Homo sapiens: one gene and its partners. The protein of the gene in region 1 interacts with the protein of each later gene in a pairwise test. Each region holds a gene or a part of one and is shown in the gene's direction. Other genes may lie near its edges.

What was found.
Region 2: the proteins of MID1 (region 1) and UBE2K interact in binary tests that used the Homo sapiens proteins (3 or more experiments, as listed by UniProt).
Region 3: the proteins of MID1 (region 1) and KIF9 interact in binary tests that used the Homo sapiens proteins (3 or more experiments, as listed by UniProt).
Region 4: the proteins of MID1 (region 1) and UBE2L6 interact in binary tests that used the Homo sapiens proteins (3 or more experiments, as listed by UniProt).

Annotation. Positions count from the first base shown.
Region 1 is NC_000023.11:10,449,586-10,456,611, reverse strand, and holds part of MID1 (E3 ubiquitin-protein ligase Midline-1), read left to right. Parts: intron 1-1,534; coding exon 1,535-1,742; intron 1,743-6,895; coding exon 6,896-7,026. UniProt on the Homo sapiens protein: Has E3 ubiquitin ligase activity towards IGBP1, promoting its monoubiquitination, which results in deprotection of the catalytic subunit of protein phosphatase PP2A, and its subsequent degradation by polyubiquitination.
Region 2 is NC_000004.12:39,771,111-39,778,136, forward strand, and holds part of UBE2K (ubiquitin-conjugating enzyme E2 K), read left to right. Parts: exon of another isoform or gene 1-589; intron 590-3,723; coding exon 3,724-3,823; intron 3,824-6,571; coding exon 6,572-6,700; intron 6,701-7,026. UniProt on the Homo sapiens protein: Accepts ubiquitin from the E1 complex and catalyzes its covalent attachment to other proteins. In vitro, in the presence or in the absence of BRCA1-BARD1 E3 ubiquitin-protein ligase complex, catalyzes the synthesis of 'Lys-48'-linked polyubiquitin chains.
Region 3 is NC_000003.12:47,272,777-47,279,802, reverse strand, and holds part of KIF9 (kinesin-like protein KIF9), read left to right. Parts: intron 1-2,423; coding exon of another isoform or gene 2,424-2,428; coding exon 2,429-2,521; intron 2,522-4,312; coding exon 4,313-4,478; coding exon of another isoform or gene 4,479-4,495; exon of another isoform or gene 4,496-4,575; intron 4,576-6,144; coding exon 6,145-6,251; intron 6,252-7,026. UniProt on the Homo sapiens protein: Essential for normal male fertility and for progressive motility of spermatozoa.
Region 4 is NC_000011.10:57,564,673-57,571,950, reverse strand, and holds the start of UBE2L6 (ubiquitin/ISG15-conjugating enzyme E2 L6), read left to right. Parts: upstream 1-4,278; 5' UTR 4,279-4,339; coding exon 4,340-4,366; intron 4,367-7,278. UniProt on the Homo sapiens protein: Catalyzes the covalent attachment of ubiquitin or ISG15 to other proteins. Functions in the E6/E6-AP-induced ubiquitination of p53/TP53. Promotes ubiquitination and subsequent proteasomal degradation of FLT3.

The DNA of each region.
Region 1 (7,026 bases):
AGCTGCCTTGGCCTCTCAAAGTGCAGGCATTACAGGCATGAGCCACCAGCCCAGCCTAAGCTTTTCTTTGATATGTACAGAAATAGATTTCTAAAACAAAAGCCAGCTAACTATAGCTCAAGGGCCAAATCTGGCTGCCTGATTTTGTAAATAAAGTTTTATTAGCATATAGCCACACCCATTCATTTACCTATTGTCCTGTCCGTGGCTGCCCCCTCACTATAGCAGAAGAGTTGAATAGTCACAAAAGAGACCACATGGCCTGGCCTGCATAGCCAAAAATATTTACTGTCAGGCCCTTTGCAGAAAAAGTATGCTGGTCCGTGACCTAAAAAGAAAGGATTTTAGAGGTGCTGGTGTTGTGTTGTGTTTGTATCCAAAAGGCAACTGGAAATCCTTTGGCCTACCCACATGTGACAACACACACTGTCCTATACTCACTGGGTCAGTTTCTCGCCCAGCATCGTGTATTGCCACAGTTGAATTTACTAGACCTTTTCCTGTGATTGAGAGCTGTATACTGGGCAGAAGGAACCTGCCAACTGCAACAGTGACTGTGGAGTTTGGACACCATGGCATTTGTATCAGGTTGCAATGCATTTCCTGCCTTTAAACGCCTTGTACCCAATGCAGTGTTGAATGACAGGCAGTACTCCAAACCAATATTGAATTGTCAAAGAAGAAGTAACAACTATGACAAAATGTCCAGGTGTGACTCTGCCAAGATTTTTTTAATACTTAAATCTTTAAGACACAAATGTGAGTAATGAAATAGAGAAGGCCTTATTATATATAAATAATTTCATGAGTAGAAAACCCAGGCATTGCTATCACATTTTTTCCTAATTTTGTGGCCTGAAAATTGTATTCTCATCCTAAATTCCTAAGAGTAATGCTTTAATTTTTAATAATCTCAGAATAATATAAACCTCTAGAATATTCTATATGTTAAGACCCAAGATCTTGATTTGTTTGGTTTCTGGTCTGAAGTCTATTGAGCATGAATGCATCTTATGCTGGATAGAACACTGCAGTGGTTGAAAATGGAGTCTTCATTCATTCCTCCTTTTCAGGATGCTATCCAGCCAGTATGTACCTGTGCTGCTTGTATACACCTGGAATCCGTGAAGCTAGCTCACCCTATGTTTTCTGGCTAAGCCTTATCCATGCTGTTGTTGAATAGTTGGCATGCCACCACTGGATCCCTATCTTAGAACTGGTAGACTGAAAGCTTATGAAGACAGGAACATGTTCTTTTTCACTCTTACTGTGTACTGTACTATACACAGAGTTGCTGCTCTCTATTGTCTTTTGAATATTATGAAAACTTTGCAAGCAAATGTCTTTGAAAGTTGCTTATAATGTTTAAATTACTATTAAAATATAAGATACCACTTTGTGATAGGAGGCATGACTCAGGGAGGGCTGGCTTGTTCCTGTCTTTTAAACCTGATTTTGAAAATATGCTATTGGTTATGATAAAATAAACAATCCTCTTCCTCTTCCTTTTTCTGTTTTGTGAATTTGTTTTCAGGCCAACCATTTAAACTGGATCCCAAATCTGCTCATCGAAAACTGAAGGTGTCCCATGATAACTTGACAGTAGAACGTGATGAGTCATCATCCAAGAAGAGTCACACACCTGAACGCTTCACCAGCCAGGGGAGCTATGGAGTAGCTGGAAATGTGTTTATTGATAGTGGCCGGCATTATTGGGAAGTGGTCATAAGTGGAAGCACATGGTAAGCAACTTATTTCTATTGTCCTGCAGTTATAAAAAGGCACATCTCATTCTGTACTTAGAGAGTCAACCCATACTGTAATGCATCTTAAAGAATAAAATGCAGAAAAGTTGTATTAGTCAGCTCTTGCTAGGATAATACTGCATAACAAACACCCCCAAACTCAGCAGATTCAAACAACAACCATATATTACTAATACCCACACCTGTGGGTTCTCTGTTCAAGATTATAGAGCTCTGATCATTGGATGAGCTATACCATGTTAACACTGCTCTTTCATGCCATGAAACATGGGTTGGCAAACCACAGCCCATGAGCCAAACCTGGCCTGCTACCTGGTTTTGTAAATAAAGTTTTATGGGAATACAGCCAGGTCCATTTTTTTACATATAGTCCATGGCTGCCTTTCAGCCACAACAGCAGAATCGAGTAGTTAAGAGAGAATCATATGGTCTACGAAGCCAAAAATATTTACTTACTTTCTGGTCCTTTCCAGAAAAAGTTTGCCATTCCCTACTTTTAAACATCACTCTTCATCATTACACAAAACTAATTTCTGTTGCCTTGTATGTTTTATGGTTCTAGACTGGACCAATTAGTGCAAATAGCTAAGGGTTGAATGGTGGGGGTGAAGCAGTGATCATAGGCTGGGAATAATTTCAAAAGGCCTGTTAGATCCAGCCCAGTGACTTTAGCCCACTGAGTTCTCTAAGAATAAGGGCAAAGGTCAGGACACAATTACATTGGAATTAGTTAACCTCACAAAGTTAACCTTGCCTAATCCACAGCCACAACTGCACCCCTTTGACCGTCTGTCTCACAAATGCCTGCTTGCTATTGATCAAAAAGGGAGCTATTTTATTTTTATTTAACAAGCCCTCATATGGTACAAGTATGTGCCAGGCACTGGTCTAAGCATTTTACAGATGTCAACTCATTTATTCAGCCTTACAGCCCTACAAAGGTAGGTGCTAATATTATCCACTTTACTGATGAGGTGACTGAGGTATATGCTGAAGATCACAGGGTTACAAAGCTCACAGGTGGCAGAGTCAGTAAGTCTGCAGTCAAGGGTCAGGCTCTTAACCAGCAGTCCACAAACATTATCTGTAAAGGGCCAGAGATTCAATATTTCTGGTTTTGCATGCCAAATGATTTTTGTCACTAATACTCGACTCTTCTGTTGTAGTGGGAAAGCAGCCACAGACAACACCTACACAAATGGACATGGCTGCGTTCCAATAAAACTTCATTTATAAAAACAGGCAGAGGGCCAGAGTTGGCCCCTGGGTAGTAGTTTGCTGTTCCCCGCTCTTAACCACCATGGTATGCTGCTATTCACAAAAGGGTGGTATATTTTTGAAATGCTATAATTACTCTCTAGGGTTTATGACAGTGTACGTAATGAGTGATAGCTGAATCCTTGCTTTAAAAAATAAAATCAACATTCAAAATTGCATAGCCTGAAGATGGTGAGTATAACAGTGTTTCTTTCAATATAAGCATGATAAAACACTTATTTATATATAAAAAAACCTTTCAATTCAAACCTATGCAAATAATGTGACATGGCTGAGTCCTTTATATTGTAGGTAGAAATTAGCCAAAAATCTAAGAAGTGAATTGTAAGCTTCCCATCTCTCCCAATAATGGTACATACTATATTGGCTGAGCGAGTAGGTTTTCCTTTGTTGCTATCCTCATAATTCTCTTTGCCTAGAAGAGTTTTCTGTTCCAACATCCTGCCAGAGGATGGAGGACAAATCCTTCACCCCACTAGGCTCTGGGCTAGATTGGCATTTGCAATTTTTAGCTGCAGTGGGGCAAAATTAAAGCACAAAGGAAAACACAATGGATGCAGGTACAAAAAAAGCAAATGTTTCTAGTTAATTAATGTGCTGTATTAATCTGGGATAGAATCCAGGGTCTAAATGATTATTACTCTATTAATAATTAATTATGATAAATGAAACCTGATCATTATGATCTCATTGCCATTGATGAATAGTTTGCAAAATTCCATCAGACCACTTCAGTTATATAAACACACATCAGCATTACCTTGAAAACACCCTCCAGATGTCAAAACTAACTCATGAGGGGGAAAAGAAATTCTAAAATTAATTGCTACACAATTAATCTTTACAAACCTGACGGTGTCAATTTCAGAAAAATCTTCATGTAGAAAGTCACTTTACATTTCCTTGGGGGGTATTAGCAAGGAAGGGGCACCCCCTACGATTAAATGCCTGTGACATCTTGACTTGCAACAGCTAATGACATATTTGCTTATGAAATATAGTCCTGACTTTAAATTGATGTGTACATTATGATCTGTGCAATGGGGCACGTTAACATTGCTCCGAGAGACATAATTTTTATACTTTGAATTCTCCGTGTCTCACTGCGTAACTTAATGGAACATTACATTCTGCCTGCACATTTCAAGCTCAATGGAAATATGTACCTAGTTTCACAGATTAATGATACTATAATGGTATTTTCCTTTGCTTAATGGACTATACACTTAGTATTTTCTTACTCTCTAATGCTAATGTGCACTTGGTGTTTTATGAAATGGTGTTAACTAAATGAGTAATAACGGGTTCATGCAAAGATTATTAGACCAGAAGGGGTGGGGGCAGCATACAACTCTGGATTTTGCTCCCAATTTTAATCTTCTGTTTCTACTTGCTACATGTAGTCAGCCATACCTGCCACAGCTATTTCATAGGGTTCAGTTAAGGTTCAAATGGGAAATAAACATCAAAGTAATAAAAAATAAAAATGCTGTGCCACAACAAGAAGGAAACAATACAGATGTGGTGATTTTGTGATGCAGGTTCCAAATTGTCTGAAAAGCGGAAATAGTATTCACTGGGGTATACAGAACATTTTTGGGGGGTGGGAGATACTGACAATTGCAAAATGAAAACCTTTCCAAAATGTATGTATTAGTCTGTTTTCATGCTGCTGGTAAAGACATAACCAAGACCAGGCAATTTGCAAAAGAGGTTTATAATGGACTTACTTACTTACAGTTCTATGTGGCTGGGAAAGCCCACAATCATGGCAGAAGGCAAGGAGGAACAAGTCCCGTCTTACATGGATGGCAGCAGGCAAAAAGAGAGCTTGTGCAGGGAAACTCCCCCGTTTTAAAACCATCAGATCTCATGAGACTTATTCACTATCACGAGAACAACACTGAAAGGACCTGCCCCCATGATTCAATTTCCTTCCACCGGGTCCCTCCCACAACATGTGGGAATTCAAGATGAGATTTGGGTGGGGACACAGCCAAACCATATCAGTGTATCAAATAAACAGATGACATTTGAGACCCTCGATGCATGCCACAGAAGGGAGCCAGAAGCTTACAGGACCCTGGAAGGGCTGGGGCATGAAGTCAGGGAGTCTGCTGCTCTAGTTCATGGAGTCATGATGAGCTGTAGCTGCTGCAAAGTTGCCCACAGCACAAGGCAGGTGTACTCAGGCGCTCATCTAGAAGCTTCCACCAACCGCACGTCTACTGTCTGCCATCAGGAAAGCGTGTTTCCCCTCCTCTAAGCACTTCTGGATCTTGTGCAAAGGCATCACAATAGCAGAGCCTGACCCAGACTCCTACAGGAAAGGGGATTCTGGGAAATGCAACTTGGATTCTCCTCATAAGCAGGAGAGGATGGACGGGAGGGAAGAGAGGATGCAACATTGATGACAGACAGGCCTGCACACTGGGCTTGGCAGATTATCAATTCCATCCTTCTTTTGGATTTAGTGATGGCATGTTGTGTTAATTTTCTTTTTAAACAAACACACCACTCTTAAAGTGATTGTATTTTAAGTCCAGTGTGATTTTTTTTAAAGAATGTCATTTTATTAAAGACCCATGAAATTTTTCTCTCTGCATTGGGTAAGGTACCATATGTTAATATCCAATTAGACTGGTTTCTGCTATAACATATTAAAAGTTCAACTGTGAGTCATTTACTCTTTATAAAGAGTGATGGGTTTTGTTTATCTTAATAACTGAAATACGATGAATATTACAGAGGCATGACTCAGAGGGGTAAAAAGAGATTAAGATGCTTAGAACATTGTAGAAAGCATTCTTTGGATTTTTTTGAGCAGCAAGAGAACATTTAGAATAACCAGAAGATCCGTCTGCTCAAACACGTTCAGAATTTTTTTTCCAGTATAATCAGAAAGGCTCTTGGCAGTGATGAACTGCACAATTTCTGGTTACGGATGGCATTGTAGAATGTAGTTCGTGTTTGTGGGTTTTGAGTCATCCTGAGTTCAAATTCTGATTCTGGTACTTATTGTTAATATGTGCCATCAGGCAATAATAATAAAATAAATAGCAGTTACTGAATATTACATGCCAGGTCCTGTGCCTGGGACTTAACATGTATTCTCTCCTTTACTCCTTAAAATAACACTGTATATTTCTCAATATACATGAGAAAATTGGGGCTGAGTAATGACAAAGGATTTATCCCTGCAAATGGGAATCATCTTCTGTGCTTGCCCTTGGCAAAGTGCATTCAGAATCAGAAAATGACAGACATGGTGTTAAATGAAAAATTATAAGAAGGTCAAAAGGAGAAGTCTAGGGTTGTGCTGTCCAGTATGGTAGCTATGAGCCACAGGCAGCTATTTAAATCATTTAACTTAATGAAAATTAAATAAATTTAAAGTTCAGTTCCTCAGTCTCACCAGCCGCAGCTAAAGTGCCCAGTAGCCATATGTGGCTTGTGGTTACCATATCGAGGAGAGCAGAACATTTCAGTCATTGAAGAAAGTTCTTTTGGTCAGCACTGGTCTAGCGAATTCATTGTGTAGATTTTTATAAGAGTGAAAAAAAGCAGCAAAACTCAAAGTTCAAATTCTCCGTAGTGTTTGAGCTGAAAACAGAAATGTGGGTAAATACGACGCTTCTTTCCACCCACTACTTTCCACCCACTTTCCATGTTTGGGAGGGAAGGAGATGAGGAACACAGATGTTGGGGTTCTTGCCAAGCTTTCACTTAAAGAAAATGAACAGGGACAACAAATGATCATGTTTTTATAACCCCTGAGGACCACAGAACGGATTTAACGTGCATGTGCAACATGGCTCATTGTTTTTGTTGTTGCTGTTTTGTTTCCGCAGGTATGCCATTGGTCTTGCTTACAAATCAGCCCCGAAGCATGAATGGATTGGGAAGAACTCTGCTTCCTGGGCGCTCTGCCGCTGCAACAATAACTGGGTGGTGAGACACAATAGCAAGGAAATCCCCATTG
Region 2 (7,026 bases), on another chromosome or scaffold:
GTAGGAGGTGGCTGTAAGATAGTTGACGATGTCCCTAACAGCGAATTCCAGGGTGCCCGTGTAGCAGGAGAGAAGCAGGTCGGCCACGATGCGTGCACTGTGCATCAGGGAGACCTGCAGCTCCGAGCTGGGGTTAAGCAGGAACTGGTCCCGCAGGAACGGTGAGCAGGCGGCTAAGATGACCTTGTGGCCTCGAAACTTGAGGCTGTCGGCCACAATGGTCACGTCGCAGAACCACTCCTCTGCCCGGAGCTTGTTCATGTTCCGTAGCGTAGCGGCCTAGTGGCCGGGCAGCTGGAAGCGCAGGACTTCACCCCAGAGGCCATTGTGGCGGGGGTGGGCAACCCTGGCCCGGTTCCGCGCGCTGTTTTTTTTTAATCCCCTATTTTCCCCACCCCCGCGGGGCCGGAAGCGCCCCCCACACACGGGCAGAGCCAGGGCAGCATGTAGGCGCAGGGCGGGAGGGTGTATAGGGCGCGCTCGCGCTGGCGGGGCCGGCTCCACGTGGGCGTAAAGGGGTAGGGGCGGGAGCGGCTCGTGCGGTGTGTTCCAGGCCTCGCGCGCGCGGCGACGGCGTCGGCTAGGACTCAAACCCTGGAGTTTCTGATTCAGTAGCTCTGGGATAGAGAAAACTTCCCAAGGGATGCTGATGCTGCTGGTTGGATGAACAACACTGAGATCATTGCTTTAAGACATCCATTGTTGGTTGTTGGCAATAACTTAACTTTTTGGCTAGGGGTGGAGGTGTAGGAGACAGTCTGGCTGTCTCCCTCAGGCTGGAGTGCGGTGGCGCCATCTGGACTCACTATAACCTTCGCCTCCCAGGTTCGAGCGATTCCTGCCTCAGCCCCTCAAGTAACTGGGATTACAAGCATGTGCCACCACATCTGGCTAATTTTTGTATTTTTGGCAGACAGTGTTTCGCCATGTTGCCCAGGCTGGTCTCAAACTCCTGGCCTCAAGTGATCTGCCTGCCTCGGCCTTCCTAAATGCTGGGATTACAGGCGTCAGCCACTGCACCCAGCCTAAATTAACTTTTATCGTAGGCATCTAGGGAAGTACTATTTATGTACCAAACTTGGGAAAATTGAGAAAACAGTCACTAATTTTTTCTATTTTGTGGTTCAAATCAGGAACCCAGTTGAAAAAGGCTGGTTTAGAGTAATTGGCTAGTTGTCGTGGCTCACACCTATAATCCCATCACTTTCGGGGGCTGAGGTGGGAGGACTGCTTGAGCTCAGGAGTTCAAGACCAGCCTGGGTAACATGGTGAAACCCTGTCTCTACCAAAAAAAAAAAAAAAAAATTGTTTTTAATTAGCTGGGCGTGGTGGTGTGCACCTGTAGTCCCAGCTACTCAGGAGGCTGAGGTATGAGAATCACCTGAGCCAAAGAGGTCAAGGCTACAGTGAGCCTTGATTGTACCACTGCACTTTAGCCTAGGCAGCGTGAGACCCTATCTCAAAAAAAGAAAAAAAGAAGAATGATCTAATTTACATGGTAAAAATGGGCATTCTCTTTACATGTAACATTTTTAATATGTCCACATATTTATACATACCTCTATTAATTGATAAAGCAACTTTTTTTTTTTTTTGAGATGGAGTCTCGCTCTGTCGCCCAGGCTAGAGTGCAATGGCATGATTTTGGCTCACGGCAACCTCCGCCTCCCGAGCTCAAGCGATTCTCCTTCCTCAGCCACCTGAGCAGCTGGGATTACAGGCACATGCCACCACGCCCAGCTAATTTTTGCATTTTTTGTAGAGATGAGGTTTCACCATGTTGGCCAGGCTGGTCTTGAACTCCTGACCTCAGATGATTGCCCGCCCTGGCCTCCCAAAGTGTTGGGATTACAGGTGTGAGCCACCGCGCCCAGCCAGTGAGACAACTTTTTTTAACAGAAATGCCAAGAATTATTGCTAGACAGGTAGATACTATTTTTTAGACAAATATTAGCTTTATAAAGATATTTTCCTTATAAATACATTTAGAATCATAAATTAAGTGATGTAGTTTAATCCAAAAAACTTGTCCTGTTTCAGAATGTTATGGAATGATTTCATATTTTCTTGAAAATATGGCCGGGCGCGGTGGCTCAAGCCTGTAATCCCAGCATTTTGGGAGGCCAAGGCGGGCGGATCACAAGGTCAGGAGATCAAGACCATCCTGTGTCTCACGGTGAAACCCTGTTCTACTAAAACTACAAAAAATTAGCCGGGCATGGTGGCATGTGCCTGTAGTCCCAGCTACTTGTGAGGCTGAGGCAGGAGAATTGCTTGAACCAGGGAGGTGGAGGTTCCGGTGAGCCGAGATCGCGCCACTGCACTCCAGCCTCGGCGGCAGAGTGAGACTCCATCTCAAGAAAATAAAAGAAAAGAAAAAAGAAAATATATTTGTTTCATAGTATCTTGTTTTTAGAGTGCCATTGAAAGAAAGCCTCACATGCTATTAGTACTAATGATTTATCACTTTAACTTTGTTTAGAGAAATGGATAGAAAAATAAGTGAGTGGATAAAACTAACAAGAAGGTGGCTGGGCGCGGTGGCTCACGCCTGTAATCCCAGCACTTTGGGAGGCCGAGGCGGGCGGATCACGAGGTCAGGAGATCGAGACCATCCTGGCTAACACAGTGAAACCCCGTCTCTACTAAAAATACAAAAAATTAGCCGGGCGTGGTGGCGGGCGCCTGTTGTCCCAGCTACTCGGGAGGCTGAGGCAGGAGAATAGCGTGAACCCGGGAGGCGGAGCTTGCAGGGAGCCGAGATCGCGCCACTGCACTCCAGCCTGGGCGACAGAGTGAGACTCCGCCTCAAAACTAAACTAAACTAAACTAACAAGAAGGATCTTGGCAACAAGAAAAACAAGGACAGTTCAGAATTCGAGTTGTCTTAAGAAATAGAAAAGCTGGCCGAGTGTAGTAGCTCACACCTGTAACCCTAACCTTTGGGAGGCCAAGGTGGATGGATCACCTGAGCTCAGAAGTTCGATACCAGCCTAGGCAACATGGCAAAACCCCGTCTTTACGAAAAAAGGAAAAACAAAAAAAATGCTGGGTGTGGTGGTGTGTGCCTGTAGTCCCAGCTACTCGTGAGGCTGAGGCAGGAGAATCGCTTGAGCCCAGGAGGCGGAGGTTGCAGTGAGACAAGATAGTGCCACTGCCCACTCCAGCCTGAGCGGCAGAGCAAGACACTGTCATTAAAAAAAAGAAAAAAGGCCGGGCGCAGGTGGTTTTTCATGCCTGTAATCCCAGCACATTGGGAGGCCAAGGCGGGCGGATTACGAGGTCAGGAGATCGAGACCATCCTGGCTAACACTGTGAAACCCCGTCTCTACTAAAAAAAAAAATACAAAAAATTAGCTGGGCGTTAAGGCGGGCCCCTGTAGTCTCAGCTACTCTGAAGGCTGAGGCAGGAGAATGGCGTGAACCCGGGAGGCGGAGCTTGCAGTGAACCGAGACTATACCACTGCACTCCAGCCTGGGCGACAGAGCCAGACTCCGTCTCAGGGGAAAAAAAGAAAAAAGAAATAGGCAAATTGTAAAGTAAGGAAGAAAATATATGATAGGCAGATACATAATTATAAATGTCTATGACTTAACTATATAATTAAGATAAAGATCTAAGTAACTTTTAGCTCTACAATTTTTTAATTTTTATTAAGAAAATACTTTGCTTTTGCCTGCAGAGCCCTCTTAATTGGGATATTTTCATGTTTTGCATTTTAGGGCAGCTGCAATGACTCTCCGCACGGTATTATTGTCATTGCAAGCACTATTGGCAGCTGCAGAGCCAGATGATCCACAGGATGCTGTAGTAGCAAATCAGGTAAGATGGCCGCTTTTGAAAGACTTTCTTATATTATGTATGAGTCTCTAGCCACTTCAGTGGTTTGCACATTAACACATGAGCATACTCTATTGAAACTAAATTTTGAAATGGTTTTCTTTCTTGTGGTAGGATTATTTTGTCAGGTGTAATAGTGAAAATAGACTTTTAACATCCTAGTTTAATTGGATATAGATGCTGTTTTCCTAACATGAGTATTTTCAAACACATAAAGTCAAAAGAATTACATAGTGAACACCCATATTCCTACCATCTAGATTCTATGATTAATGCTCGTGTATGTGTCCATCTTTTTATCCTTCCTTTCAGTGATGATCCCTCCCTGCTAATAATTTTAATCACCTCCTATCATGGGACTTATGTGACATGGCACAGTTTCCAATGACCTTGTAATTTGTTGAACAGAATAAATATTTTTCATTTCGCTTTCTAGCTACAGTGGCTGAGTTTATTAGTTACAACGGAGACTGGACCTAAGTTATTAGTATCTGACCTGTTAAGAAACAGTTTGCTGGCCAGGTGTGTTGGCTCATGCATGTAATCCCAGCACTCTGGGAGGCTGAGGTGGGTGGTGGATCACTTGAGGTCAGGAGTTCCAGACCAGCCTGACCAACGTGGTGAAATCCTGTCTGTACTAAAAACACAAAACTAGCCTGGCGTGGTGGCACACACCTGTAGTCCCAGCTACCTGAGAGGCTGAAGTGGGAGAATCGCTTGAACCTGGGTGGCAGAGGTTGCAGTGAGCTGAGATCACACCATTGCACTCCAGCCTGGGTGACAGAACGGGACCCTGTCTCAAAAAACAAATTTGCCAACACCTACTCTAAGCCATTGGAATATAATGGACATTTTTTTTTTTAAACTTAGAAAGTTTTTCTTCTCTTGACTTCTAAGATATTACCCTCTTTTCTTCCTCACTTCATAGCTGTTCTTTGTTAGTTCCCACAATTATTTCCCTTCTTACTCGTCTTTCTTAAATGTAGTTCCTCAGTTCTGACCTTGTTACCTTTACTTTCTGTACACACTCACACTTGGATGATCATATCTGTACTGATGTTAGTACCTGTACATTGATAAAATGTTTAGGCTTGCCCTCTCTCCTAAGCACGAGAGCCTGGTGTTTAACTAAATTGGTAGGTGATGGTATCATAGAATGATAGGTTTGTAGGATTTATGATACTGCATTCAGTTTTGGCAGTGTTACATTCAGGTATCCAAGGAACATTCATATGGTTAACCACCCAAGTCACAGCCTTTGGAGTTTTTCTCTGTGTCTCCTTTGCTCCTGTTGATAACCATTCCCTGTATCATTCTGTCACTATATTTACATAATTACTCTGATTGCCATAGGTCACTTTTAAAAAATTGTTTCTTTTCAACTGCTCTGATAGATCTCCTTTTCTCAACCTCTTTCTTCCTTTCTCCATCTTCTACATTGCTATCAGGTAGCTTTATAAAGTGCAAATCTTACTTCACTAACAAAAACTTGTTCGTAGCTCTACTGTCATCTACTTGAGTCCAGATTCTTTAGTTTGCAGAGTTTTTCCATGATCTGAACTCTGCTTTATTTCCTAAATTCTTGTTTTCTTCAAACTCATGCTTTTTCAAGCATTGCATTCATTTTTACATATTGTATCCAATCTACCATATTTCCTCTGCCTGAGGAAACTTCCTCTTGGCAAACTTCTTTAACCTATAAGATTTTAATTTATATATTATCTTTCTTCTTTTCCCTTGAAGATCTGTTTATGTATATATGTATATATCCTTGTCAATATATTCTGTTATTTGTCTCAGAGTACTTCCAATTAGGGTTTTCCATGTTTTATATATGTGCTATTTGTTCATATTTGTTGTTATAAGCATGGCTTGTGTTCCAGCTTTGCTTTCCTATTGAGCTCTAAGCCTTACACGTTGAGGTTGGACTCAAGGGTTTCTTTTAGCTCCTAAAATAGTTCAATAATTTGACTTATTTCCTTGTGATGAATAAGTGGTAGAAACTAGATTTATCGTTTTAATATGTAATAGATTTAAATATATAAATTACTTTTAAAAGAAATATTAAAGTGAATTGAATAGTTAGTAATTTATACTTTGCTTTACTAAGTAATGGTGGTTCCAAAGTATTTGATAAATTTACCTCTTTCCAATGCATATGGGAAGTCTTTTAATAAAATTACTCTATTGTGAGTTTATAATCATCTCAAGTTATGTAATAAGTTAGGACTTTGCATGTGGGGTTTCCATAAATCACTGTACACTAATGCAGCTGTAAGAAAACAGAAGAATCTAGTTGTATTCTAGCCTGGGCTGTGGGTAATACAAAAGCTGGTTACATCGTAAAAAATTATTCTAATGTCCACATATTTTTATAAGCTAGTAATCTGTGTTCAGTTGTATAATGTTTGCTGCTTTCCAGTGTTTGGAACATCTCTTAATACCTCACTTAACCTAATTTTAGTCTTGCTAGTTATATTTGTTGAATTTGGAGATTAAAGTAGATTAATGTTACTTGTCTTTATTATTGTCAACACAAATTGTGAGTCGAAGCTTCAGGTTAAGTGGTCTTTTCTCGAGTGACATAGGTTGTCTATAATGCAAAGTGAATCACATTTTAAATGTAGATTTGTTTTATTTGGAAAAGTAGGATTGTAGGCGATTAAGAGCTGAAATATATCAAATATTATAACTGTAATGTCATGTCAATCAATTTTTCCCCCCATATAGTACAAACAAAATCCCGAAATGTTCAAACAGACAGCTCGACTTTGGGCACATGTGTATGCTGGAGCACCAGTTTCTAGTCCAGAATACACCAAAAAAATAGAAAACCTATGTGCTATGGGCTTTGATAGGGTAAGTACATAAGGGCATGTTGATTTTGATATATTGATTGATTTTAAATTATTGCAAATTCTTGGCTGACAAAAGTGGTTTAGAAAATAAGAGAAATTCGCAGCCTGGGCAACATGGCGAAACCCATCTCTACAAAAATTAGCTGGACATGGTAGTGAGTGCCTGTAATTCCAGCTACTCTGAAGGCTGAGGTGAGAGAATCCCTTGGGCCCAGGAGGTCGAGGCTGCAGTGAGCGATAGTCATGCCACTGCACTCCAGCCTTGGTGATAGAGCAAGACCCTGTCTCAAAAAAAAAAAAAAAAAAAAAAAAAAGGAAAATAAGAGA
Region 3 (7,026 bases), on another chromosome or scaffold:
TACTAAAAATACAGAAAAATTAGCGGGGCTTGGTGGCGGGCGCCTGTAGTCCCAGCTACTCGGGAGGCTGAGGCAGGAGAATGGCGTGAACCTGGGGGGCGGAGCTTGCAGTGAGCTGAGATGGCGCCACTGCGCTCCAACCTGGGTGATAGAGCGAGACTCTGCCTCAAAAAAAAAAAATAAAATAAAATAAAATATTACCATTATTTAATGTACTTTTTAAAAAAGCAAGATAATCTAATTAAAAGTAGTCCCTGTTATACATGAGGGGTTTTTATGGTTAACATCTTAAAAGTTACTTAGATTTTTTGATTTTTTTTTTTTTTTGAGACTGAGCTTGCTCTGTCACCCAGGCTGGAGTGCAGTGGCATGACATTGGCTCACTGCAACCTCCACCCTCCAGATTCAAGCAATTCTCCTGTCTCAGCCTCCTGAGTAGCTGAGATTACAGGCGCTTGCCACTACACCCAGCTAATGTTTGTATTTTTTTTTAGTGGAAACAGGGTTTCGTCATGTTGGCCAGGCTGGTCTTGAACTCCTAACCTCAGGTAATCTGCCATCCTCAGCCTCCCAAAGTGCTGGGATTACAGGCAAGAGCCAACGCACTTGGCCCACGTTAGTTTTTTTTTTTTTTTTTTTTTTGAGATATGGTCTCACTCTGTCACCTAGGCTGGAGTGCAGTGGTATGATCAAAGCTAACTGCAGCCTCAGCTTCCCCAGGCTCAAGTGATTCTCCCACCTCAGCCTCCTGAGTAGCTGGGACTATAGGCATGCACCACCATGCTTGGTAATTTATTTATTTTATTTATTTATTCATTTATTTATTTTTTGGAGATGGAGTCCCTCTCTGTCGCCCAGGCTGAAGTGCAATGGCGCGATCTCAGCTCACTGCACCCTCCACGTCCCAGATTCAAGCGATTCTCCTGCCTCAGCCTTCTGAGTAGCTGGGATTACAGGCGTCTGCCACCACAACTAGCTAATTTTTGTATTTTTAGTAGAGATGGCATTTCACCATGTTGGCCAGGCTGGTCTTGAACTCCTGACCTCAGGTAATCCACCTGCCTCGGCCTCCCAAAGTGCTGGGATTACAGGCCTGAGCCACCGCACCTGGCTGCCTGGCTAATTTTTGTATTCTTTATAGAGATGGGTTTTCGCCATGTTGCCCAGGCTGGTTTCAAACTCCTGGCCTCAAGGGATCTGCCCACCTCGGCCTCCCAAAGTGCTAAGATTATGGTATGAGCCATTGCACCCAGCCAAAAGTTAGTTTTTTTTTAAAGCCAAGCCATGCGCCTGTAGTCTTAGCTACTTGGAAGGTTGAGATGGGAGAATCACTTGAGCTCAGAAGTTAAAGGCTAGCCTAGACAACATAAAGAAACCCTTGTCTCCAAAAATAAAACAATGAAATAAATGTTAATTTTTTAAAAAATATTGAACATCGGCTGGGTATGCCTGTAATCCCAGCACTTTGGAAGTCTAAGATAGGAGGATCACTTGAGGCTAGGAGTTCAAGACCAGCCTAGGCAACATAGTAAGACGCCATCTCTGCAAAAAAAATGTAAGAAAACTAGCCGGGCACAGTGGTACGCACCTGTAGTCCCAGCTACTGGGGAGGCTGAGGCAGGAGGATCACTTAAGCCTGGGAGGTCAAGGCTGCATTGAGCCATGATAGCACCACTGCACTCCAACCTGGGTGACAGGGTGAGACTCTGTCTCAAAAAAAAAAAATGTATGTATATATGTCCTATGTCTTCCTTTATTTATACTACTATATATATGTATATGCACACGCATACACACACACACACACACTGAAAGAAAATGATGAGAATATAGTTAGGTTTTAGGAGAGCAAGAGGAGGTAGGGGACTGTCTGTGATATTTTTTCTCAATATAGTAAGAGAAGAAAGAATATTTATTATGGACCAAATATACGTCTGGGTCATCTATTTCTGATCTAGTTAGTCTACTGGAGAAGAGGATGCTGTATCTGAAGCAAGATAAGTTAATGAAAAGAAAATTAGTTTTAATGTATTTCATAGTAAGTATTTTAGAAGAAAATATAATAAATGAAGGAAAGCATAAGTGGACTCATCATCTTAGTTGCAGAACATTTCTAGAAATGACATCTAAGATTAGGCCACTAAAGGAAGCATTCTTTTCACTTTGTATTTCAGTCTCTCTGGGGTCATTGGTGGAAAATGGCAAAGCAGTCTGTGAAGCAGAAAGTGCGTGTATTTGTTGAGCAGTGTCTTGTGGGTAGAACACTGAAATGCTGAGGGGTGAAAAGGAAAACTGGCTTTCAGGGAGAGAGGGAAAAATGGACTGCTCGTCACTCTTTTCTGATCTTCTTAATGAATGACCCCTCTCCTCTACTTGTTATTTGATAATGACTACTCAAAATTTCATTGTTCCCTTCTTTTTAGCTAGAATGGGTACTAGGAAAAAAGTTCATGCATTTGTCCGTGTCAAACCCACCGATGACTTTGCTCATGAAATGATCAGATACGGAGATGACAAAAGAGTAAGTGCGATGTGTTTGCCTTCAACTGACTGGGCCTCTCTGTCCCACCTTGCTATAGTGTGACCGTATTTCCAAGCAACCTTTGAAGGACCAAGACAGAATTGGACAGGATCCAATGGACTCTAGAGCCCATCAAATCCAAACCACCCCCTCACACACTGCTAATGAAGAAATTAATAAAATCCCATCGTTAATTGTCTTTTAATAATTTTACCTTTAATAAATTAATAAGTTTACCTTTACCCTCGTATCTGACACAGAAGAATTGACATTTGTTCACATTCATAAAGCTTTCTAATGATTGATCTGTCATTGTATAATCGCCCATGGGGTGCAGTAAGAATATCTTGAGTTCATTACTGTTTAGCTTATCAAAACAGCTGGAGAAATACTTATCAAGAGAAGTGGAAAGATATATCCGTCCCTATATCCTCACCCTGAGAATGCTTCTGAAGGCTTAGGACAGTGTAAGAGTGTTAGATATTTTCATTCAGCAAACAATTATGGGCCTACTCTGGGCAGCATTGAGACATTCTTCAAAGGAAAAATTCAAGGGCAAACTGCCCAAGCCTCGCAGGTCCTAGCGGTCAGAAAAGAGCTCACATGCAGCCCTATCAAATGTGTCCTGCTGGACATGGTTTTCAGCGAACACAGAAGCACAGAGCATTTAATGTGTGAGTGGACCAAGTCTTTCTTTCTTTCTTTTCTTTTTTTTTTTTTTTTTTTGAGACAGAGTCCCACTCTGTTGCCCAGGCTGGAGTACAGTGGCACAATCTTGGCTCACTGCAACCTCCGCCTCCCAGGTTCAAGCGATCGTCCTGCCTCAGCCCTGCTAGTAGCTGGGATTACAGGCACGTGCCACCATGCCTGGCTAATTTTTGTATTTTTAGTAGAGACGGGGTTTTGCCATGTTGGCCAGGCTGGTCTGGAACTCCTGACCTCAGGTGATCTACCTGCCACGGCCTCCCAAAGTGCTGGGATTACAGGCGTGAGCCACCATGCCCGGCCAAGTCTGTCTTTCTTCATCTTAATTTTTCTCTCTGTAGCCAGGTATAGCTCCTGCATTAGGGCAGTCAGTGTAAGATTTCAGCAAGAGTCTTTACATCAGAAGTTCTCATCAAGAAGATTGGAATCTACCACTGACCTTACCCAGTATGTCCCTAAGCCAGCTGCTACTACAATGGCTTACTATGAAGGGGCATGCATCTAAAAATCTGCTGATGACACCCTCAATTTACTCTTAATTCCTATGTCTGAGAAGTCCATAGCCTTCTCTGTGGCTTTCATTTCATCATCACTCACTTTGGCTCATAGCGTGTGTGTGGAAGTAGATGTTCACCATAATGCAGAGCTGAGGGAGGCCTCACTGCCAGCAACCAGAGCAATGAGGCTGGAGCCCAGGCCTCTGTTACCAGGCTCACTATTCCCTCTGGCATAATTCAAGGCCTCCCTATGCTTATGGAATCTATCTAAAACTTGTTTAATAAGAACATGATAAATTTGACCTCATATCATAGGTGGGGAAACAAAGACAGCACCGTGTGAACTAGGGTTAGAGGTGCTAAAACTAGAAAGTGCTCCACTCTCCTGATCTTTCCATCTCCCTGCAGGAACTCTCTTCTCCCATCCCAAAGAATTCATCTGGAATATCAGCCCCTACGTGGGAGTCCCCATTCATCCTACAGTTCATTTCCTCTGTTCCCTCCAGATTAGGCCTCAGCTATCAGTGATTTTTTTTATACCCATTTTTGAACAAATAACATTTTTTTCTTTCTCACTCTTTTTTCCTAGAGCATTGATATTCACTTAAAAAAAGACATTCGGAGAGGAGTTGTCAATAACCAACAGACAGACTGGTCGTTTAAGTTGGATGGAGTTCTTCACGATGCCTCCCAGGACTTGGTTTATGAGACAGTTGCAAAGGATGTGGTTTCTCAGGCCCTCGATGGCTATAATGGTAACTTAATTAATTAAATGTTGTCTTATGTAAGAACCTGAGGAGTAAGAGATGCAAATATTTTATGGTGAATAAAATAAAAGCTCACTCACTATCATTTGTATGTTTGTCTGTCTCCATGTTCTTACGTTGCAAAACTTACTGTTTGCTTGTTGACATTGTGGGCATGGCTTGATCCAATGTCCTGGGATTCTACCTTCATAGGAAAATTAAAAGACTATGGCTCTCTATAGGTCACAGGGGTTCAATTATCCTGTTTCAAATCTCTCAAGTATTAGTTTTGAAGATACGTCTTTATGACAAATTTGATGGAGTCCAAACATTTGTCTCTCAGCTTCCTGCTAGGAGCTATTTTCATGTATTCTACCAACACAATCAATGTACAGTTGATATTCTAGTATAGGATTGTATAAAAGAATATGTCACAGTTTGTAGACTTTGCCATCTGGTGGCTGCTGACTAGGATGTTCCCTGTTTTGCAAGTTTAGGTTTTATATTTAAAAGTGCATTGAGTGTAGATGCTGTAATTTATCCTGAATGTGATACGTAGGTGTGGTCCCCACTGACTTAAGGAGGTTCTCTTTTGGTTTTCATGATGCTCTGATTGTGACCTTGAGGAGGTGAAGACAGAGGAACTAAGGCCCAGGGAGATGAATAGTCTTGAGCACTGGTGCTGTGGAACCACAAATGGGCTCTGATTTGCAGCTGAAGTGACTCCTTCCTGTTCATTTGTGTTGGGTTAATAGACACCATTTCTGGCTCCAACTCAGATGCTGAATCAGGATCGCTTGTGTAAAACCTGCCACCAGTCCCAAGAACTAGAGTGTCTGTGTGACAAAGGCAAAAAATTTTCACAGCCCAGCATTGCCTGGGCAGATCTGCCATGTAAATGCCCATGGGCAGCCTGTGGGATGGGGTCTGGCTCAGGCTGCCCATGCTAAGGGGAAGAACAGATAGGAGCCGGAGCTCAGGGTGACTGCATGGTTTGTGTCCCGGAGCCTGGTGGTGATGGTAGACCTAAAGGATGTTGAGAAGTGCAATGAAAGTCTTCCCAGGGTGGGCAGTGGACCAGATCAGGGCCTGATCATGGTGGTACATTTCTGGAAGTGACATGGAACCAACTAGGAGCCCTGTTTCATCCTGCAGGAATTTGTAGTCTACAAAGAATTCTCACCCTTGACAGAAAATGCCCTTTCCACTCCATCTCTTCCTGGAGATTTTGAAAGCCCCTCTTTGCCTCTGTGGGGAAGTTGATGCCTCCTGCCAACCCTGAGACCCTGGCAGTTCATAGCTGTGCTAGAGAAGGGCTGGAGTCTAATGCTCCTATCTCCCTCCTCATCTTTTTAGGAAAAGTTCCAGTTCCTCTGTACCCTGAGATTCCCTGTCCTTCTCAGAAGCCCTAGGGCCGGATCATCTCTTGGTGGAGGGAACAGCAGAGCATTGTGGGGACCACAGATTCAGGGCAGATGTCCTTGTTTTGACCACTTTTGTCCCTGTTCCCCTGCCCACCCATCCTCTTCCATGGTGGAATTCCTGATGTTCTTGGCTGCCCCCACTGGCCATCTTCATGCAAAGGGCCCTGGCTGGCACCAGGCATGCTGGGAGAGGGGAGAGTTATCCTTGGAGCTATTTTCCTGGATGTCACCGTGTTTTGAAATGTTTGCAGGCACCATCATGTGTTATGGGCAGACGGGAGCTGGCAAGACATACACCATGATGGGGGCAACTGAGAATTACAAGCACCGGGGGATCCTCCCTCGTGCCCTGCAGCAGGTAGAGAGTGGGCCCAAGGGTGGGATGCCACACAGGTTCCCTCTCTCTGCCATAGATGTTACTGACCCTGGGCCAGCTACTAGAGACAGTGGGGACCAGGCCTCAAAGGAGTTGCAGTGGATACTGGTACTGGAGACAACATACACAGGGCTCTGGAGTCAGTAGAGTCAGGGGCCTCAGGAAACCAGGAGGTTGGGTGTCAGACTCTGAGCCATACCCACACTGAGCCTGTTTCCTCATTTGGGAAGGAGGGAGTCAGGCATGCTAATCAGCCTCTTGCTGCTCCAGTGGTCTGTGATCCTGTAATTAAGGATTTGGAGGTCCTAATCATTCTCTTTCCTGGTTTTAATGAGGGGCATATAGACCCTTGCAGAACTTCCTTACTGGCCTACTCTGGCTTTTTTCACCACCACAGCCCCTGAAAGATCAAAAGCAAGAAGGAGGGCATGACTTGAGCTTTCAGGACTGTGTCAGCCCGGGGGGTCTCAATAGCATAACTGAAGATAAGACAGAAGGGCCTTCCTTTGGGCCCCACTAGCCTGGGTTCTGTAAGGACCCTCTGGTCGGAGGTAGGAGGCAAAAGCTGCCAAGAGGCAGCTTTACAGCCCTGTCCTATAAGAAGTGTTATAGGACAGGATTTTTTGCAGCCCTGTCCTATAAGAAGTGTATACATTCCTCTAGTATGTGAACCATCCATGCTCCTGTTTTTGGAGCAATACCCTTAATATCCCACTGTCAAAGCTTCAGTATCTCAGCATCTTAGACTTTAGTAATC
Region 4 (7,278 bases), on another chromosome or scaffold:
GCCACCTTCCTGCTCTTGTGGCAAGAATACCCCCAGCTCCCCTCCTGGGACTCCCTGACTCCTTGATTGCCTCTATCCATCCCTCCACCTCAACCACAAGGGCAGGGCTCATGGTACAGGAGGGGTGTGTGTGTGTGTGTGTGTGTGAGACTAACCCAGAGGAAGGGGGGGTGTGGGGTAAGCACGAGGATCAAAAGAAGCAGGAAATTCTCTTCTGTCTCTGGTTCCTGGGAACTTCTTCTTTTTTTTTGCCTGCTCTTGTTGCCCAGGCTGGAGTGCAATGGCTCGATCTCAGCTCACTGCAACCTCCACCTCCCAGGTTCAAGTGATTCTCCTGCCTCAGCCTCCCGAGTAGCTGGGATCACATGCATGCACCACCACACCTGGCTAATTTTGTATTTTTAGTAGAGACAGGGGTTTCTCCATATTGGTCAGGCTGGTCTCGAACTCCCCACCTCAGATGATCTGCCTGCCTTGGCCTCCCAAAGTGCTGGGATTATAGGCACGAGCCACCGCACCTGGCCCAGGAACTTCTTTAAGCTCTAGGAAGATGGGGAGAGCTGGGGTAGTTCTGAGATTAACCGTCCCTACTCCAAATAGGAACAAGCCCAAGGAATGGGCATGGAAAGAAATCAACTGATCCTTCCTGATCCAAGTTCTTCCTTTGAAGATGCACTGAAGGTTCTTGGAGACATTTGAAAAATCTGAACCTCTTGCCCAGAACTCTAGAGGCATTATAAATAGATAACGTACTTTCACACCTACAAGGTGTCTGCTCACATACACCATCTCATTTTATCCTCATAAGAGACTGGCAAGCCTTACAGCTGGCAGAGCTCAGTCTTGGAAGAGACATACCTCATATGTGCACGTCACTTAAGAGGCCTTTCTCCTACCACCTTTTGTCATCACACAGATGTGTGTCTCTTCCTCTCAATGGTGAAGACGAGCCAGCCTAACCAATCAATGCCTGAATCCCATCGAGTACCCCATACAGGGCCTTGTATAAGTAGGTGCTCAATAAATTTTGTAGATGGATGAATAAATGCCAGTGACCAGATCAGGGAGAAGTAAAACAGGGTCTCCTACTGGAGAAAATAGTGTTGCTGTTGTTCTAAGGGAGCAAGCTCAGGCATCTGTTCCTACAGCCTGGTACATTCACTCTGAGGCAGGCACCTGACATCATTTTAATATTTATTATGTTATCATTATCATAACTGTCACTTATTGTCCACCATTCAAAGTTAAGTTCTTTGCAAATATCAACTCATTGTTTCTCACATCCACTGTTATGAGCTCCATTTAACAGATGAGGAAATGGAGGCACAGACAGGTTAAGTAATGTGCCCAAGGTTATTTAGCCAAAAATAGTGGAGCTGGGATTCAAACCTGATTGTTTATATCCTGGAATTACAATTTTCTTGTTTTGCTTTTTGAGACAGAGTTTCGCTCTTGTCGCCCAGGCTGGAGTGCAATGGCCCGGTCTCGGCTCACTGCAACCTCTGCCTCCCAGGTTCAAGTGATTCTCCTGCCTCAGCCTCCCCAGTAGCTGGGATTACAGGCGCACGCCATTACACCTGGCTAATTTTTGTGTTTTTAGTAGAGACGAGGTATCGCCATGTTAGCCAGGCTGGTCTCGAACTCCTGACCTCAGGTAATCCGCCTGCCTTGGCCTCCCAGAGTGCTGGGATTATAGGCATGAGCCACCATGCCAGGCCTCGGACTTAGAATTTTCTTTTCTTTTTTTCTTTGAGCGGAGTCTTGCTCTGTCCCCCAGGCTGGAGTGCAATGGCGTGATCTTGGCTCACTGCAACCTCTGCCTCCTGGGTTCAAGCGATTCTCCTGCCTCAGCCTCCTGACTAGCTGAGATTACAGGCACCCACCACCATGCCCGGCTAATTTTTGTATTTTTAGTAGAGACGAGGTTTCACCATATTGGTCAGGCTGGTCTCGAACTCCTGATCTCAGGTGATCCGCCTGCCTCGGCCTCCCAAAGTGCTGGGATTACACGCGTGAGCCACTGCGCCCGGCGACTTACAATATTCTAAGTTCCTCCACTTCCCTCAGCTTAGCCTCACAATGGTCCTGGCAAGCAGATAGGAGTTTCCGCCGACCACCCAAGGCCATAACTGCACATGGGGGCAGATGTGGAACTAGAACCCAGGTCTCCCTGGGGCTTGTTCTGACACACAAAGGTCTGCATTGTGAAAGGACATGAAAGGCACACCAGTGGGCTGCCCCACTGTGTGGGGACTTAGGACCCAGCTATATCCATGACTGTTAATTCACCTCGGGATGCAGCGTTCCTGTAAGAAAAGAAAAGGAGAGCTACGATACGTGGACAGAGGCTTTTGCTCCAGTTTCCATAGACACTGCCCCGTTTGCTCATGCTGTTCCCTCTTGTTAGAACATCTTCATCCCACGCTCTTACTTCTCGCTGACTCATCATGTTTCACAATACACTTGGATTTTTCTCTCTTCCGGGAAACCTCTGCCCCTCCCTGAAGAGGGATAAAGTGACCCTCCTCATACTCCCAGAGTACCAGGTGATTCTCTATAGCATTATCATTAAAAATCAGGGGCTGCATTCTCTCCCTCTGTCCCAGTAGTCTGGGAACTAACTCCTCAGGAGCAGGGACTCCCCTTTCTCATCCTGGTGTTTCCTATTGGCAATGCCTGCCACTCAGTAGTAGGCGCTTGTTGACTGAGACTATTGATCACAGGCAGGTTCGAATGTCTTTGTTCCCTCATCTCTACCCCTGTTAAGGGATTACGGAGTGTCCTATTCATTTCGGGCATATAGAAAATGCTGTTAAAGTTCATTGAATTGAATGAAACAATTAATCGTTCTGCAAAATCTGAGCAGAGAAGTCATTTGGTTTCAAAATACTTGGATAAAAACATTACGGTGGCTCACGCCTGTAATTCCAACACTTTGGGAGGCCGAGGCGGGTGGATTACTTGAAACCAGGAGCTCGAGACCCTGACTCTACTAAAAATACAAAAATGAGCCGGTCGTGGTGGCGCGCGCCTGTAAATCTCAGCTACTCAGGAGGCTGAGGCACGAGAACAGCTTGAACCGGGAGGCGGAGGTTGCAGTGAGCCGATATCGCCACTGAACTCCAGTCAGGGCGACAGTGAAACTCTGTCAGAAAAACAAGAAACAAAAAAACTGTGAGGTACTGAGATCACAAACTGGTGCTCAAAATATACTGATTTCCTTTCTCGTCTGGACTAAACGGGGGTAGGGAAGGGTGAGAAGGAGGGGATCGGCCCTCCCAACAAGTCTCATCTTCCCCAGATGCTGCTTGGTGCTCAGGGGCTGCAAGTACTCTGTCCTTGCACAGAGGGTTGGGGACTCCAGCTGTGCATGGGGGCACACATTAGGCCCACAGCTTGTAATGGACCAGTAGTAAAGTAAGGGAGGGGAAGCAGACTCTCTCTTGGAAAGGAGGCTCCTGAGTCCTTCTTGGGGCTTCCCCCACCAACTGTTTCCCAAACCAGCATACAGTAGGCACTTAGTAAATACTAAACCTAGTAAAGGACTGAATGATGGTAGACCGAACCCCCAAAGCAAAAGAGAAAGGGTCCAACAGCGCCTCCTTGCGGTGCTCTGCCCCAAGCCACGGGGAGAAACGTTGCAGCCCGCGCCGAACGCCGGGCAGCACAAAGGATCCCCGACTGCCGGGGAGCGGTGCTCGGAGGGCACAGGTCTACGCCATCCCCCACGCAGTTTCGGAGATGGAGCGCTGGGCCCATGGAGGGAAGGCGGCAGGCTCGGCGGCTCCGGCAGCTTGCTGGGGCAGGGGCTCAAGGCGGCAGTCCGATAGTGGAGGCCGCTGAGAACTGTCACGGAGCTGCGTCTGTACAGCGAGCATCCCTTATTTATTCAGGGCGAGTGTGTATTTGGGGCGGCGTGCAGGGGGCTGACAAAGACCGGAGAGCTCCCGGTGCGGCCGCCGGCGGAGCGAAGACTGGAACCCGTATGAGCGCCCCCCAGCGCCCCTGAGCGCTCGCCGCCGGTGCACGGCGCACCCCGCGGGAGGCAGGGATCAGCAAAGCCGTGCGCCCCGAGGCCCGCCCCCGTCTCCGCACAAAGACCGTGAGTCCCGGGTCCGAGCCTTCCGCGCGGGGATCGGGCGGTTGTCCGGCGGGTCGTCCTTCGACGGCCTCCTGGCCTCGCCGGAGCGGGTGCGGGGAGGCCCACGCAGCGACGGCTGGAGGAGGGGTGGGCGGGGCTGCCGGGGGTGGGGTCCCCGGGGCGGGGCGGGGCGCGCTGTGTCGCGGGTCGGAGCTCGGTCCTGCTGGAGGCCACGGGTGCCACACACTCGGTCCCGACATGATGGCGAGCATGCGAGTGGTGAAGGTAACCGCGTATAGGATGACCCCTTTCTCTTGGCTCCCCTCGCCTCCCGCATTCCCTCCTCCCTCCATCCCCTCCGCGGCTCTCCGAGCACATTTATTTATTTGTCTGGGCACCAGGGCTGGCTGAATCCCTGTCCTCCCCGCCCTCTACTCAGAGGAGGACTGGCCTGCAAGAGTGGCCAGAGCTGGGGTTTTGGGGGTTTGGAGGCCTCTGCTTGAGCCGTTCGCGTGGTGAAGATGAGCCGGCTCCCCCAAAACTGGTTTCAATTTCGCTTTTCCTGCCTGAAACTTGTGATAACAACTGGGTGCATCTCCAGTGCAGGAAAAGTCCTTGGCATCTTGGTGCCAGGCATTCTGCTACTGCTGGTGGTGGGTTATGAACACAGATGACCAGGATGAAGTCCTTGCCTTGGAATAAGCCCATAGCCCATCCCATAATTTGATGCCTGTATTACTAGAGTCCTGAGAAACACGGAATGCTGATTAGAATTTGGGACAAAGTTCCCTGAGTATTCTCTGGAGGAAAAGATGCGGAGGTGGACCTGGAAGGCCTCCTGGAGTAGGTGGCTTGCGTTCGTGAGTTCTACAAGTGTTGAATGCCTACATGTGCTGGCCCTGTTCTAGGAGGGGGGGGGGGGCGGGCAGAGATGAACACAAATCCGGCCCTTGTTGAATTTTGTTCCTATCAGGGACACAATTTGAAATAAGATCTGGAAGGATGGGGAGGGGGCAGTTTCCTCCAGAAGGTGGGAAAACCCAGGGTGTTTGGAGATGGATTAGGGAGGAAGGTGATCCTGGTGAAGTGAGTCTGGCACCCCAAGTCTTTCAGAAGTGCCCCTTCCAGTCTGCAGGGTGGAGGGGCAGGCTCTAGGAAGAGGGTGCCTGCTACCCTCAGCCTCTGAGAAGAAAATGGCCTCAGACTGGGATGCCCAGAGCAGGCTTGGCCTAGATACTAAATCTGGAGGTTGGCAGCAAAATGAGGCAGAGGGTCTTTCCAGCCAAGTGGAAGAGAGATGGGAGCCAGAATTTATTGCATTGGAACCATTACATGCCAAACGGTTTACATGGTTATTTCATCTAATTCGCACAGCAGTTCTGTGAGATAAGTAATATATACCCGCATTTTACAAATGAGGAAATTGAGGCACAGAGGAAATAACTTGCTTGTCCAGAGTCTTTCAGTAAGGAGCAATGGGACTGGAATATGAAACCAGGTCCACAGGCCTCCAGCCTGCAGGCTCTCTTAATGGCCTTTCTACTTTCATTTTCTGTTCCTCTGAGTCAGGTGATTTCCTAGTAGGCAGTAGGAAAGAACTGTGTGTTTTAGGTTGGGTTTCAACTTCCTCAGGCTTTGGGAAAGTTCTGGCAGAACTCATCCTAAACAGATAAAGTTCAAGTGTCTTTATCTTTCCAAGACCTGGAAAATGTCTATTCCAGATCTTCTCCGGTCAGCCCTGGGCTTTGTTCTTGCCAAAGAGTCACAGATGATAGAGAAACTCTTACAAGTGCAGATGCTTCTAGTTTGGGGTAAAGATAAATGAAGGGCCATTGACCCTGGGTGGAAGGCACCAGAAGCAGCTTATTGGTTGAACAGAAATAGAACATAGGCTGAGGGATAGGAGGGGGGCATGGGATGTGTTTATATTATATGTTGGGGGTGGGGGTAAGGCAGAGAAAGTTCAAATGGTCCACAGTGTTAAAGGACCCCTCCCCACTTGTGGACTGGGTTTGGAGAGCTTCAGTTTCTCAACCTCATCACTACTGACATTTTGGGTCACATAACTGTTATGTATCCATTGTATGTTTTTAGATTTGAGGTTACTACAAGGTTTGTAAATAATATCTTATAACCTGTTATTTTAAACTGATGACAAGTTAACACTGATTACATAAACAAACAAGCAAAATGAAAACTAATGAAGGCCAGGCGTGGTGTCCCACTCCTGTAATATCAGCACTTTGGGAGGCTGAGGTTCGCGGACTGCTTGAGCCTAGGAGTTCGAGACCAGCCTGGGTAACACAGCCAAACCCCATCTCTACAAAAAGTACCAAAATTAGCCGGGCATGGTAGCACACTGCTGTAGTCCTAGCTACTTGGGAGGCTGAGGTAGCAAGATCACCTGAGCCCAGGAGGTTGAGGCTGCAGTGAGCTGTGATTGTGCCACTGGACTCCAATCTGGGTGACAGAGTGAGACATTGTCTCAAAAAAAAAAAAAAAAAAAAAAAAAACAACTAATACAAACTGTATACTTTAACTTCGTCTTTCCGCTTACTAACTTTTTGTTGTTTCTATTTCTTTCCTTCTTTCTTTCTCTCTCCCTTTCTTTCCTTCCTTCCTTCCTTAAGATGGAGTTTCACTCTTGTTGCCCAGGCTGGAGTGCAATGGTGCCATCTCAGCTCACCGCAACCTCCGCCTCCCAGGCTCAAGTGATTCTCCTGCCTCAGCCTCCTGAGTAGCTGGGATTACAGGCAGGCACCATCACGCCTGGCTAATTTTGTATTTTTAGTAGAGACGGGGTTTCTCCATGTTGGTCAGGCTAGTCTCGAACTCCTGACCTCAGGTGATCCACCCACCTCAGCCTCCCAAAGTGCTGGGATTACATGAGCCACTGTGCCCGGCCATTTCTATTTCTTTCTTATTGTACTGTCTACCTCTTGAAAAATTGTTGTAGTTATTATATTTAATTGGTCATCTTTTCCTCTTTCTACTTAAGATATGAGTAGTGTATATACCATAAATACAGTGTTATACTAATCTGTGTTTTTCTTTCTTTTTTTTTTTGAGACGGAGTTTCGCTCTTGTTGCCCAGGCTGGAGTGCAATGGCACGATCTCAGCTCACTGCAACCTCCGCCTCGTGGGTTCAAGTGATTCTCTTACCTCAGCCTCCCGAGTAGCTGGGGTTACAGGCACC